Linked DNA regions of Homo sapiens. The protein of the gene in region 1 interacts with the protein of each later gene in a pairwise test. Each region holds a gene or a part of one and is shown on either strand. Other genes may lie near its edges.

Evidence for each region. Proteins that work in one complex are often made in the same cells at the same time.
Region 2: the proteins of GOSR2 (region 1) and PELI1 interact in binary tests that used the Homo sapiens proteins (3 or more experiments, as listed by UniProt).
Region 3: the proteins of GOSR2 (region 1) and ARL13B interact in binary tests that used the Homo sapiens proteins (3 or more experiments, as listed by UniProt).
Region 4: the proteins of GOSR2 (region 1) and MARCHF8 interact in binary tests that used the Homo sapiens proteins (3 or more experiments, as listed by UniProt).

Annotation. Positions count from the first base shown.
Region 1 is NC_000017.11:46,929,660-46,933,192, forward strand, and holds part of GOSR2 (Golgi SNAP receptor complex member 2), read left to right. Parts: intron 1-1,439; coding exon 1,440-1,548; intron 1,549-2,407; coding exon 2,408-2,540; intron 2,541-3,533. UniProt on the Homo sapiens protein: Involved in transport of proteins from the cis/medial-Golgi to the trans-Golgi network.
Region 2 is NC_000002.12:64,141,597-64,145,615, forward strand, and holds the start of PELI1 (E3 ubiquitin-protein ligase pellino homolog 1), read right to left. Parts: upstream 2,825-4,019; 5' UTR 2,485-2,824; intron 1,931-2,484; exon of another isoform or gene 1,722-1,930; intron 1-1,721. UniProt on the Homo sapiens protein: E3 ubiquitin ligase catalyzing the covalent attachment of ubiquitin moieties onto substrate proteins. Involved in the TLR and IL-1 signaling pathways via interaction with the complex containing IRAK kinases and TRAF6.
Region 3 is NC_000003.12:93,986,646-93,990,178, reverse strand, and holds part of ARL13B (ADP-ribosylation factor-like protein 13B), read right to left. Parts: intron 2,234-3,533; exon of another isoform or gene 1,117-2,233; intron 1-1,116. UniProt on the Homo sapiens protein: Cilium-specific protein required to control the microtubule-based, ciliary axoneme structure. May act by maintaining the association between IFT subcomplexes A and B. Binds GTP but is not able to hydrolyze fit; the GTPase activity remains unclear.
Region 4 is NC_000010.11:45,528,848-45,532,380, forward strand, and holds part of MARCHF8 (E3 ubiquitin-protein ligase MARCHF8), read right to left. Parts: intron 1-3,533. UniProt on the Homo sapiens protein: E3 ubiquitin-protein ligase that plays several important roles in innate immunity and adaptive immunity.

The sequences.
Region 1 (3,533 bases):
CTCTGCCTTGGGGGCTTAATGATTCAGCGTGGAATGAGTTTTGTTGTTAGGGTGGACAGAAAAACCCTATGGCAAAGTCACTGATTTCCCTGAGTGTGCCCTTTGGAATCCCACAAGTCTTATCCCCCATTACCCCTCCACTCAACCTGACATGGCCCTATGGGAATGGAAGCGCTTGCCTCCATCTATCTTAATCTAATTACCTAGTCCTTAGAGGAATGTACTCCATAAAAATTCAGAGATGTTTAACTGGAATTGGCCATTTCTTCTGAGCTGAGAACTGTGGCTTTTTAGGAGGATTATTCAGAAACGAACAGCAATATTAATTAGTTTAGTTCCCACAGCATGGTTTCTTTTGAGAAGCATGCTGGTTTTTTGTTTTTTTTCATTTTTTTTTTTTTTTTCTATTCTGAGGAAAGGTCCTTTTTCTGAGTTGGTCATATGGACACCACCTGCGGGGGCTGCCTACCCACCCCACTGCTGGGCTCCCTCAGGACCCATTCCTCCTGTTCTCTCATGTCTCCTTTCGCAGCTTCAAAAGCAGCTCTGTTCTTGGTTCTGTGCCCCACCTTGTTCTAATCTCAACTGTCTTTGTTCACTGTGGGCACAAAGGGCTAGGAAGGGGCAGTGTCACTGCTGTCACTTCTTTATGGGGCAAGAAGCAGTCTGGATGCTTTCTTTTGTGCACAGTTTAGCTTCTTTGTTCATCGGACTTTGTTTGCCTTCTCAGCAATCTCATTGTTACATGATTAGAAATGGAAAGAGGTCATTTTGACTGTCTTATCGAAAGGGATAGGGAAAATGACCGTATTTATCGTATCTCTTTACCTCTGTGGATTCTTTCCTGGGCCTTTCCTATTGATATTTGGTTTATTTTGGGGACGTCAACATTGCTCAGCCCACCCATTCTTACAGAAAGCTTTAAGGGAAGAAAGCCTTAAGGGAACTCTTCTCTGTATGTTTCACATACTAATCTTCCCCTTCCTTTATGCTTTTTTTTTTTTAAATAAAAAAAAAAAAACTCATTACTATAGGGAATTCAATTGGCAGCCTTTTTCTAGGTATTTATAATCCACGTCTGAGAATCCCAAAGGAAAAGAGACCTATATCAGAAAATTTAGCTTAAAGTATTTATTTGGACAACCTTTGCATGTTTATTTTCTAAAGGTAGGAAATTTATTTCTACAGATTTACCTTCAGCTTTTTTAAAAAATTGGCATTGTTATGTCATTAACAGCTATATACATGTACTTTTTTCAAAACAACATTTACGGCCTAACTTGAATTTTTTCTGTTATTCATTAGTGTATACATTTTTCTCCTTTTGAAATATGTAGTTCTAGTTTATTGGATATTGAAAAAAAAATCTGTGATTTATCATTGTAATTTAAGTTCACTATCTCTTTTCCAGCAATTATTCTTTTTTCTTTTTTGTACAGTAGTAGAAAACGAAATCCAAGCAAGCATAGACCAGATATTCAGCCGTCTAGAACGTCTGGAGATTTTGTCCAGCAAGGAGCCCCCTAACAAAAGGCAAAATGCCAGACTGTAAGTGCTGACCTCTGACATGGCTCTGATACTCCAGGCCCATCAAGACAGGCTTTTCTCCCTGGGGGAGGTGATAGAATATTCTGAAAACCAACGTACATGTTGAAAAACTATGACTATGCAAAGAAAAAGCCCCCTCAAAGGGCACAATTCTATCTGAGTGATGCCGCTCAAAATAAATAGCCTGTGAGGTTTGTGACTCAGAAACCTTGTGACCCCTTACCTCTTTGGTGTCATTTTGAAATTTTGCCTCCAGTTCTGTTTTTTGACTAGATCCATAGCCACCTGAAGCCTAATGTTGCCATGGAGTTTTGTTCTGCTCTTTGGTTCCTGCTGGGTTCTTCTTGGGTTGAAATGAAAAATCACTTCAATCAGTCCACCCATAATGAAATGCTGATCTAATGTTTGATACTCCAGCATGAAATTAAAATGAAACCACCCTTGCCACCTCCACCCCCAGCGCCTGTTTCCAAAAGTTTTATGAAACTTTGTGGATGCTTTACCTCAAAGATGCCCTTGGGCTTCTTCCAGGAGAGCCATATAATCCATAGAAGGTCAAGAAGAGGTCAGTGAGCCTGCTTCCTGTCCCCTGTTCTCTGTCATGCATCCAGAATCAGAGCAACAGATTCTGAAGTCAAGCTGCTGGAATCTTGTGTGCTACCATCTCACTTTAACCACAAGTTTCTTCTTGACTTTCAACATCGTTGATCAAAATTAGATCTTGTGGTGAGGGGGTATAGTGTGGGGTGGTGTAGGGAGAAGTAAGGAAACGCCGTCTTTCCTCAGTACAAAGCCTGGCCCCCTCAGATTCTGCTGCCCTGAGTTCCTGGAATTTAATCTCTCTCTCCATCAATTCCAGTCGGGTTGACCAGTTAAAGTATGATGTCCAGCACCTGCAGACTGCGCTCAGAAACTTCCAGCATCGGCGCCATGCAAGGGAGCAGCAGGAGAGACAGCGAGAAGAGCTTCTGTCTCGAACCTTCACCACTAACGTAAGCCAGGCCCGTGGTGAGGGTCGGCCTGCACTTGACAGATCGTGGGGGCTGGAGTTCAGATCTCTGAGCGCCATCTGTTTTGGGGGTGTCTGAAGAAGACTGATGATGAGGAAACCAACTGGAAATGACAGGAACTTTGTGCATTGCCACAGAGACTAGACCTAGACAGAGAATCCCTTTTTCTAAGACAAAAACCTGAAGAGGAAGCAGTTAAATTGAAGGGGAATAGGCAGAGGTGAAAATTACCTGGTTGGGCTGGTCTGAGACAGAAAGGTGGAAGTTCACATGGTGGAAACGTTTTTCTGATCAGATAGAGACAGATGATTAGAACTTAGGCCATTTGTAGAGAAGGCAGCATTTCAAAGCTGCCTGCGGGCAGTTGCCATTGTGCCGAGTATGTGTGTGGCTCCAGTGTCAGGTGCATTAAGATGTTTTTGCCCCTAGTCTGAGCAGCAATTTGGAGGAATTTGTTAACAGATGTTTAGGGTTAGATGGACTGCTTGCCTGAGTCTGTCTGAAAGTGTGTTGGTTTGCATGTTTGATTTTTCAGAACCCATTGTCCCTGCCCTTTAGTCTTAACCAGATCATTTCCTGCACATGGCTGTAGAACATACTGGCCTTTTCTGTGTCCTGCATAATATATTCCACTAAATGAAGTGTGCTTTGGCTTTTTGTATTTTGTTTTTTTACAGAGGATTATTTTCTAAAGAGATGTTAGCTTTCTAAGCCAGTTGTTAAAATTCACATCATTTCCTGCTTTGTAGATGTTTAACCCTCAATGCTGCATCCTTGCTTTGCAATAAATTTTCCCAAGTGTTTCAGGCTGTGCCAACATAGTTTTTGCTTCCCCAGACTAAGCAGTCAAGTTACAGTGTTTAACAGTTCAAAAATTTAATGAACTATAAGACACACTAAAAGATGTTTGGATTTTAGATCGTTATAATGTAGTATTCAGGCCTTTTTTAGGCCAAGGATGATCGCTTGGGATTA
Region 2 (4,019 bases), on another chromosome or scaffold:
CTGACCTACTAGAAAACCATAATACATCATATTCTGAAATGATAGAACTCTTAAAATACAAAAGTGACATTCTGACAACCCAGAAGAGGCTGAACTTAAATCAAATGGAAACATCCTTTGGCTTCCCCTTTGAAACTTGCCTCAGTGGCATTTGGCAGTACTAGACTAACTTCCTACCCCGTACTTTTCAGTCATTTCCTTTAAGGGGTCTCAAAGAAATTATGAAACCTGCAAAGCCAGACTTTGCCAGTCAACACTAACTTCTGCCTGTGGATTCCAGTGACTGAGCCAAGACAGTGTTAGTAGCTTCCTTGAAGTACAAATGTTCCTGGTAAATCTGGCTTGAAAATACCACAGAAAAAGTTCAACATAACCAACTGTAAGAACATTTAAATGCCAATCTTAAGGAAAGAATGGATTCCCTCCCCCTACAAATTCCACTGAGGCAAATTTCCAGCTTACTTTTTAGAAGCAAATAAATACTACTACTATTACATTACAGCACTTCTACCATGCTAATAAAAAGCTAGGTGATAGTTTCCTCTTTAAAACCTGTACATTCACTACATGAGACACTATAACCACTTCACTACATGCAACTTTCCATACATATAACTGTTCTACTTTCCAATTATTTATTTTAAACTCAAGATCTCTTTTAACATACTATAGAAAGGGAACAGGTTAGAAGGCTTTGGGAAAAAAAATAAAATAACGAACATCTCACTTTCATTTTCTGATGCAACCACCAAAATCTAAAATGTAAGGACAACTATATAGTACAAAATTAAATTTAAGAGAATTTAGAGTAAGTGAAACTATTCACTATTACTACAGTTCTGATTATTATTTACCTGAGGAAAGAGCTAGTAGAAGTGATGCTTGGTTTAAATTTTTGGTGCTTTCCAGTATGGTACCGAAGAAATAAAAACTCACAAAATAAATAAGGTCCTCAGAGTTAAAGACTTTTCCCCAGAAGAGGTTGTTGGTATAAATAAAAAAAACAAGGAATTCATATGCTGTATTTGTACACTAAGAACAATGTTTTGAGACATGTAAATCTTATCACTCAGAAAATATTTTGTTGGCTATAAAGAAAACGCATCGTAAACTGAAACAGAACTGAATAAAGTGAACCTTTACCACAATTAAAATATTTTAAATTCACCCTATTATGAAAACTTAATAATAAATTCATTTATCCTTAAGTGTAAGAGTAATACATATTCGACACAGTAAAGGACAATGCCATTTCTGAAACAAAAGATCATGTGCAATGAAAACAAAGTAACATTTTGCAGAGTAAGAAAAAGTAAAGAGCCTGTGAACCGAAACAGATGACCTTTTCTTATATATAAAGCTTCAGTTTTTAGCACAACCAGCACCTTATGAATAAAGTTCTCAATAACATTTGTTGATATACTGTTTGATGACTAAACGACAGGAATATTGTTGGTGCTGTTAAAACCAAGGCACATTTCCTTGTGTGTAGTGATTAAAATCTGTTAAATGTACATTTTTAAAAAACCTCTGCCCTCTGTCCCCTTCTTGCTCTCTTGCCTCTAACAGACCTGCACGTACAAAAATAAAAGTAGATGGTGACGTGAGTTTATGATTTACATTAATTTCCCTACTCGGAGCATTTTTCACTAAGTCTTTAGAGGTTTTAAGATTCAAACACTATGTAAGAAGAATTATGGTTTGAACTACGTAACAATTACCTAGACATCTTTTGGACTTCAGTTAACCTGTAAGTAAAATGAGCATCTTTAACTTTTCCACGGGGCTTTGGAGAACGGGTTCTTCCTCATAAACGCTTTCATATACTCAGACACGAGGCGCGGTAGAAGATCAAGCGTATCCATCAATTTGAGAGCTTTTCACGACCTCAGTTTACCCACTTAGGGAAACGGGCGTATTAACTTGTTTCCTAGGGGACCCGGGGGTGAAATTAATTAGCGTGTTTAAAATGCTCTGAGATCCAAAGATGAAAGGAAATGTGAAAGACGCGCAGAGATGATGACAACAATCATAACAATAAAAAGAATGACTAACTTGAAGTCTGCGTTATGTAAGGGAGGAAAAGAAGTTATCAGATCCGCACAAACAAAAGGGAAACCCACCGCCCCTTTTGTTTCTCCCATTTCCCTCTCCTCCCCGCCACCCGCAGAGCTCCCCTCTCGCAGCCGGAGCGCGCGGCCAGCCAGGCGCGGGGCTCGGAGTTGGCCGCCGCGCGCCCCGCTCCCGGGCGGAGGGGGAGGCCGCGTAGGGCCGGTTCCTGACAAAGGCGCTTCCTCGAGCCAGGGCGCGGGATGCAGGCGCCGCAAACTCCGCTCCCCGCCGCAGCGGGGGCGCGCAGGCGGGCGGGGAGAGCCGGCTGCTGGCCGCCGGGGAAGCCGCCGAGGAAGTTGCGCGCCCGCCCTCCCCGCGCCCCTCGGCGGCCCCGCCGCCATCCATCCCGCGGCGCCCCGCGGTCACACTTACCGGACAATTGCTGGTGGCCGGGATCCCAGAGCGGCCCCCGAGACCCGAGGCGAGAGGGTGAAGTGTTGTGCGCGGGGAGCGCGAGCAGACAGCCCGCCGTTCCGCCGCTGCCCTCCGCGCCCGCCAGCCGAGCCCAGCGAGGGGAAGTTGACCACGGAGCCGAGCGCTGAGGAGCCGCGGACGCAGGGAGAGGCGTTGGGGCTGCTTTGTGGTGCGCTCCCGGAGGGCTGGGGACCAATTCGACCGCACCGCGGGACTAGGGCTGCTGCCGCTGCTGCTAGTGGAGGCGGCGGCGGCGCCCCCCGACGGTCCCTCCGCCTCACACCGCCTCTGGGTCACTGACATACACTCGCAAGGAGGGGAGGGGTCTAGCCGGGGGGCGGGGCCTGAGGGAGGGGACCGGGCAGGGCCACAGCGGAAGGCGGTGTCGCCGCACCGAGAAGGCTCTTGGGAATTGTAGTTCTCCGGTTGAAGAAAAAAGGGATTCATTGTTGTCCAGCACCCTACCAGGCTCGCTCTGCACTGAGCATGCTCGAGGGCGAGGTTTGGACCGCCCCCTCCCACCGTTACCATGGTCACCGACACACTTAGCGAACGTGTTCAGTGCTGCTGTTGGCTGAACAAGGACGGTCTTGTATTATGGTGTTGTTGGGGATCCAACCCTTAGACGGTCCTTCCTACTTTTCTCCACCTCCAACTCCTAGCCTTACCAGTCATAAGTACCCAGTGAGGTCTGACTTTCTCTCCATATTTCAGTCTTCCCTGCTGCGTAATTTATCTTCCACAAACCCTAAATCACAAATACCTCTGTCCCTCACTTCCCTCAATTGAATCTTCTCCGGCTAAATTCAATTTTCTTTACCTAAGACTTGTCGAAATGTAGTTGTTTCCAGTAATTGAACAATTAGGTTATAAAACTTAGGAATATCACCACTATCAAAGTCCCGTAATTAATTACTTTGCTCAGTTAGTCACATCTAACTTTAAGATTAGCAAAGGCAAAGTACAGAATTAAGACCCCTATATTTTACTTGATTACTATAAAAGAATCCGGGTTCGTTCATTTTAAGGCCTACAATTTTTAAGACATACAAATTTCATAAAGTATACGTTCAAAAGACAAGTTGAAAATTGTTTATGTGTATTGGCCAACTTTAGTTTGGTAATAAGAGAAGTCTGAACCAAGGTATGAGTATGTTGTTGGGCTGGTCAGCTAAGTCTACACCCATCTTGGGCACCCAGGTGTGGAAAGGTGGTAGGGAGGAGGGTGGAGAAAGGCAGGACACATTACTGGCTCTCCGGAGAGCTAAAGGCAACGCGTCCTGAGCGCTTTTGTTTTCCTTCTCCACCTACCTAGAACCCCACACCCTGGAAGAAAAAGATTAATGCTTAGGAATCAGACACACTTTTGGAGCAAGGCTTTCAGAGAGTCTCAAGATCAGAAATCCTTATATCTACAGACTATATAATTATACACTCATTCAAAAAATGCTTGTTGAGTGTCTACTTGTGCTAGGCACTGTTTTGAGCCCCAG
Region 3 (3,533 bases), on another chromosome or scaffold:
AAAAAAATTAGCCAGGCTTGGTGGCGCCCACCTGCAATCCCAGCTACTCAGAAGGCTGAGACAGGAGAATCACTTGAACCCAGGAGGTGGAGGTTGCCGTGAGCTGAGATCGTGCCATTGCACTCCAGCCTGGGCGACAGAGGGAGACTTCGTCTCAAACAAAACAAAACAAAACAAAACAAAAAAAAGAGATACTCAAACTGTATTATCAAATAATTAATGATGTAACCTTTCCAGAAGTTGAAAGTGAGCCGCTTACTCCTAATATTATAGTCATCCCTGGGTCTTTGATTACTAGAAAGGCTGAGATACAAAGGACTCTGTAGTATTATAAGATTTACAGTATGTTATACTAGTAATAAGTAACATAAGAGGTATTATGGGTACTCTGAAATGTAGCCACAAATTTGGTGTTAGAGACCTGAGTTCAAGTGCCAGATTTGCCATTTCTAAGCTATATGGCACATTACTTTTCAGAATTTCATGAATGAAATAGGATAATAACAATAGCTACTCTAAAGGGATATAATGAAAATTAAATAAGGTTTCAATGAGCTGGGATCATGCCACTGCAGTCTAGCCTGGGTTGACAGCATGAGGCTGTTTAAAAAAAAAAAAAAAAATTAACCATAGCATTTTTCTGCTTAAAATCCTTATAGAGAATCAAGTCTCAATTTGGCAGCCCCCACTTCTGCCACTCCCAGGAAGCCTGCCATGCCGAGGATTCCTTCCATGCCGAGTACTCCTTCAGCCCTTCACAACCATCCCCGGCTACTTTTTATACAGGCTCCTCTACCAGAACTTCTCTTTATCAGCTCTGTAGTGCCTGTATCAAATGTGTTGGGCACACAGTAGGCTTCTTTACTGAAAGAAACAACAAACATTTTCTGAACCCCATTTGCTGAGTAAATACTAAGTAAAATTAAAATACATAACTTTAGATTGAGAAAGTACTATAATGAAGCTAATTTATATAAATCTTCACATCAAAATAGTTCATATTAAAGAATGTAATTATATCCATATATATCAAATTGGCTGAAGTTTTCTGAAAAAGCTTACATGCTCATGGTTTCAAGGTACTAATTAACAGAAAGACTTTCAAAACTGAAATAGGGGTCTCAGCAGCTCGGGCAGCGGGAGGAGTGCCAGTAGCCAGGCAGCCCAGCTTCGCGAAGGCTCTCAGCTCCGTGGCCCACAGGTGCCCAGCAAGTGCCCCTCCTGCCGCCAAGATGCCCAAGAGGAAGGTCAGTTCAGCCGAAGGGGTGGCGAAGCAAGAGCCCAAGAGGAGATCTGCGCACTTGTCAGCTAAACCTGCTCCTGCAAAAGTGGAAATGAAGCCAAAGAGGCATCAGGAAAGGCTAAATCTTCAGATTAAAAAAAAAAAAAAAATGCAAACAAATGGGAAAAGGGGAGCATAGGGAAAACAGGCCAAAGTGGCTAACCAAGAAACTAAATAAGATTTACCTGCAGAAAACGAAGAAACTAAAACCGAGGAGACTCCAACCTTTGATGAAGCAGGAGAGAAAGAAGCCAAGTCTGATTAATATCATATACCATGTCTTATCAGTAGTCCCTGTCTCCCTTCTTGTACAATCCAGGGTATTTTTATCAACTGCTTTGTAAGTGCAAGTCTTTTAGTAGCTCTAGAAACATTTTAAGTAGCAGGAACTCCCACCTCATTCCATTGTTAAGTTTTTTCTGAGGTGAAATAATTCTCTGGTTGTTTATTTTTTGGTGAAACCAGAGAATAGTATGGGATATTGAATTACAGGAAGTTTTGACTGTCTTGGATGTCAGCTTAACATTCCACAGATGGGGGCTTAGTTTTTATATACTGTAATACAAAATATACTAAATGGCAATACAGAGTCAGAATCCTGCATTTAATGTCTTGAACATTTTAAATTACTTCTATTGCCATGTTTTTTTTTTTTTTTCACAGAATTGTTTCCTAAAGAAAACCACTCCTTGATCATGGCTCTCCCTGTCAGAACTGTGTACACTATAACATCTTTGGTCACAGAAGTCCTGATTTCCTAATAACTGTGTTAATGTGCTGTGAAAGATTGAAAATTTGGGTATATAGTGTACATGCTATTAAACTGTGAATTGGTAGAACGTGTACAGCTTATCAAACACTTGTAGATACTGGCTCTTGATAATCCTCTTAAGAAAAATTTGCCTCCAAATGTTAAGTTGGAATGTCACTATAATAACTATTTAAAAAAGAGGCCGGGTGCAGTGGTTCACACCTATAATCACAGCACTTTGGGTGGCCAAGGTGGGAGAATTACTTGAGCCCAGGAGATTGAGACATGCCTGGTCAACATGGTGAGACCTTGTCTCTACAAATTAAAAAAAAAAATTAGCCAGGCATCGTGGCATGCACCTCCCAGTTACTTGGGAGGCTGAAGTGGGAGGATCGGTTGAGCCCGGGCAGTCAAGGCTGCAGTGAGCCGTGATCACTCCTCTGCACTCCAGCCTAGGCAATAGAGAGAGACCGTTTCAGAAAAAGGAATTACAATAGAGGTTTTCTAGATTTTTGGTATGTATGTTAAGAATTGTGTACAATTTGAAATGTCTGTATACTTATTCTCAACACGACAAATAAAATCTCCATTACAAAAGAAAAAACTGAAATAATTCTTAGTAAAAACAAAAAAAAATCAAAGGTAGAGATTAAGGGATCCAAAGGTCTGTTTTACATCACTTTAGCTATCTGCCGAAACAAGTGAAGACTTCCATACTCCAGAAGCTAATAATTAATATTGTTCAAGTCAACACAATGTATATAATAGATCTCCTAAGTGAGAATATGAGAATATCTTATCTCAGAATTCCTTTTTATATAACGGATATACAAATTAATATATCAGAAATACTGGTCAGGCACAATGGCTTATGCCTGTAATCCCAGTACTTTGGGAGGCCAAGACAGGAGGACTGTTTGAGCCCAGGAGTTTGAGACCAACCTGGGCAATATGGTGAGATCCTGTCTCTATTTAAAAAAAAAAAAAATCAGAAATATAAGCATCATGGCATTAGGGAGGATTGAACTTAGAAAACATTTAAATTCTGAATCTTTCCTGAATGACATTATCACAATCATTTGAACACCTACAAGTCTAAACTTCCTCATCTTTTAACTAAGGAAGACAATACTTTCAATATGATAATTAGATAAAAGCTATTCCTTTTTTTTTAGAGACGGAGTCTCATTCTGTCACCCAGGCTGGAGTGTGCAGTGGCGAGATCTCCACTCACTGCAACCTCTGCCTCCTGGGTGCAAGCAATTCTCCTGCCTCAGCCTCCCAAGTAGCTGGGATTACAGGAGTCTGCCACCATGCCTGGCTAATTTTTTGTATTTTTAGTAGAGACAGGGTTTCACTATGTTGGCCAGGCTCATCTCGAACTCCTGACCTCAACTGATCCATCCACCACGGCCACCCAAAGTGCAGGGATTACAGGTGCGAGCCATCATGCCTGGCCCATAAAAGCTGTTTCTAACTTCAAAAATATTATGCAAGTCA
Region 4 (3,533 bases), on another chromosome or scaffold:
AAACATGATCATGGGTTAGAAGAATCAGTATCATTAAAATGACCATACTACTCAAAGAAATCTGCAGATGCAATTCCTATAAAAATACTAACATTGTTTTTCACAATATTAGAAAAAACAATCCTAAAATACCCAAGGAACCAGAAAAGAGCCTGAATGGCCAAAGCAATGGTAAGCAAAAAGAACAATACTTGAGGCATCAAATTACTTGACTTCAAATTGTACTATAAGGCTATAACAACCAAAACTATTATAAAAAGAGACACACAGGTCAATGAAACAGCTTACAGAACCCAAATTAAAGACACATGCCTACAGGCAAATGATCTTCTTCAAAGTCAACAAAAACATACACTAGTGGAAGAACACCCTATTCTATACATGATACTTGGGAGAATTGGGTAACCATATACAGTAGAATGACACTGGACCCATATCTCTCACCATATACAAAAATCAACTTAAGATGGATTAAAGACCTGAAAGTATAAAGACCTGAAAGATCTGAAACTATAAAGATTCTAGAAGAAAACCTAGGAAAAACTCTTCTGGACATTGGCCTAAGGCAAAGAATTCATGCCTAGGACCTCAAAAGGAAAGCTACAAAAATGAAAATAGACAAATGGGACTTAATTAAAATAAAAAGCTTCTACACAGCAAATAAATAATCAACAGAGAAAACAGACAATCTACAGAACAGGAGAAAATATCTGCAGACTATGCATCTTACAAAAAGCTAATTTGTAGACTCTACAAAGAACTCAACAAGAAAAAAATAACCTTTTTAAAAAATGGGCAAAGGGCATGAACACATATTTTGCAAAAGATGACATACAAATGGCCAAGAAACATTTAAAAAGTTAGAAATGCAAATAAAAGCGATGAAATACCATTTCACACCAGTCAGAATGGCTATTACTCAGGTGTCAAAAAAATCAATAACAGATGTTGGCAAGGATGCAGATAAAAGGGAATGCTCACAGACTGTTGTTGGGAGTGTAAACTAGTACAGCTGCTATGGAAAACAATATGGAGACTTCTCAAAGAACTAATAGAAATACCATTTGATCCAGTGATCCCACTACTGGGGATCTACGCAAAGGGAAAGAAATCATTATATCAAAAAGATACCTGTACTCAAATATTTATTGCAGGACTACTCACAATAGCAAAGACATAAAATCAATCTAAGTGCCCATCAACGGATGATTGGATAAAGTAATCCACATCATGGAATACTACTCAGCTATAAAAAAAGAATGAATTCATGTTTTTTTGTAGCAACATGGATAGAACTGGAGGTAACTATCTTAAGTGAAATAACTCAGAAAGAGCAAGTCAAATATCACATATTCTCACTTACAGGTGGGAGCTGAAAAATATGTACACAGGGGCATAGAGAGTGGAATAATAACATTGGAGACTCAGAAAGGTGGGAGGATGGGAGTGGGTGAGGGATGAGAAATTACCTCATGGGTGCTTATGTGCACTATTCAGGTGGTGTAACAACACTGCACTTGTACTAAATCTATAAATAATAACAATATGAGAAACTGGGTGTCAGGTATATGAAAATACTCCATCCTAGCTTAACAATTTTTCTGTAAATCTAAAACTAGTCTGAAATAAACTTTTACTTAAAAATGAAACTGGGCCAGGTGCAGTGGCTCACACTTGCAGTCCCAGCAATTTGGGAGGCCAAGATGGGAGGATTGCTTAAGCCCAGGAGTTTGAGACCAGCCTGGGCAATAGCAAGACCCCGACTCTACAAAATGAAAGAAAAACTTATCCAGGCATGGTCTATAGTGCCAGCTACTTGGGAGGTTGAGGCAGGAGGATCATTTGAGCCCAGGAGTTCGTGGCTGCGGTATGCTGTGATCACGCCACTGTATGCTAGCCTGGGCAACAGAGCAAGATCTGTACTCAAAAATAAGTAAAAAATAATAACAAAAATGAAAATAAAACTGACCGAAGTGAGGGAGAAAAGCAAACTCAGAATAGTCACACATGCCAACAATGACAGAAAAGAGGACTAAAACTGTCATTATAGCTGTTATTTCATATACTAAAAAAGTTGCATAGAGACATGGAAGATATAAAAAAGATCCAAAACAAATGTCTAGTGATAAAACATGTCTGAGATGAAAAACACACTAGACGGAATTACTGGCAGATTAGATATTGAAAAAGAAAATATTAATGAAATTATAAACAAAGTAATTGGAATATCCAAAATAAAATGCAGAAAGAAAAAATAACCTTAAAAAATTAAAAGTGCAGCAGTGGACAACTTTAAGCCAGTCAATGTGTATACTGGAGTCCCCAAAGAAAGAATGGGGGGACAGAAAAAGTATCTGAAGAATAGCCAAAAAGCTCCAAATTCTATGAAAATTGTAAACCCACTGATCCACAAGCACAACTTCAGAATACAAGAAACAAATAAAAAATATTTTTTAAATAAAGCTGAAAGAAGTCATTGTCAGCCAACTCACATTATAAGAAATGCTAAAGTCCTTTAGACAAAAGAAAAATGATAGATGGAAATACACCAGAAATGGTAATTATCTGAGTAAACAGATCTTTATTATTATTTAAAAGAAAAGTATTTAAAGAGAAAGTATTTTTTTAAATATATTCTAGGGTTTAAAATTTATTAAAAGACAATAATGAAAAGGCCAGAAGGAAAGAAATGAAAGTATACTATTGTAAGGTTCTCATACTGTATTTGAAATAAAAGATCATCTCCACAGTGACATGACCCATATCACTGAAACTGAATTCATATTCACTCATTCATTCATTCATCAACTGTATTGAGTACTGTATAAAAGTCATTAACCCTCTGTAGAAGTTATGGGCTTCAGCGAGGGTGTGTTAACAGATTAGACTAAGCAAACAGGTGGATTATTTGAGTCTAGGTAAAATGCAAGGGTTCACTCTTCTTATGGGACTCAGTAGGAATAATATCTCCCAAGCACAGGAGGATCAGAAATCATAGCAAAAGATTTTGGGTTGAACCTGTGCCAGGAAAAACTGCATAAATAAAAATGGGCTCCACTGGACAAAAATTTACCTTTCAAATCAAACCTGATACCACAATTGAGACCCTAGAAACACAACCACTATTTTCATCCTGTGCCATTGCTGCTGAAGCTCTCACGGGGCCCTGCAAGTTCCTGGTTCAACTGCTCTTCCACTACTGCCACCTCATCTGGGCTCCACGACACCCTGAACTGTCAGGCTGCCACTGGGTGTTCAAACCATCCCCACACTAAGGTAAGACAGAATGGTTTCTCTTTCTTCCCAATACCAATAAAAATCCCCATTCTACAAATAATTGATTAATGCTATTTATTTAGACCTTAAAAATCCCATCAAATAGATAAATTCAATAAGGCTTTATTAAATAACCACCTACAGTAAACCTGCAGTGAGGGTGTATATCAAAAAGAATCTCCCTTCCTGGCCTAACTGTTGGACATTTTCCTTTTTCTATTCCAAACAAGTTTGTATAGCTTCCCCATGTACACACT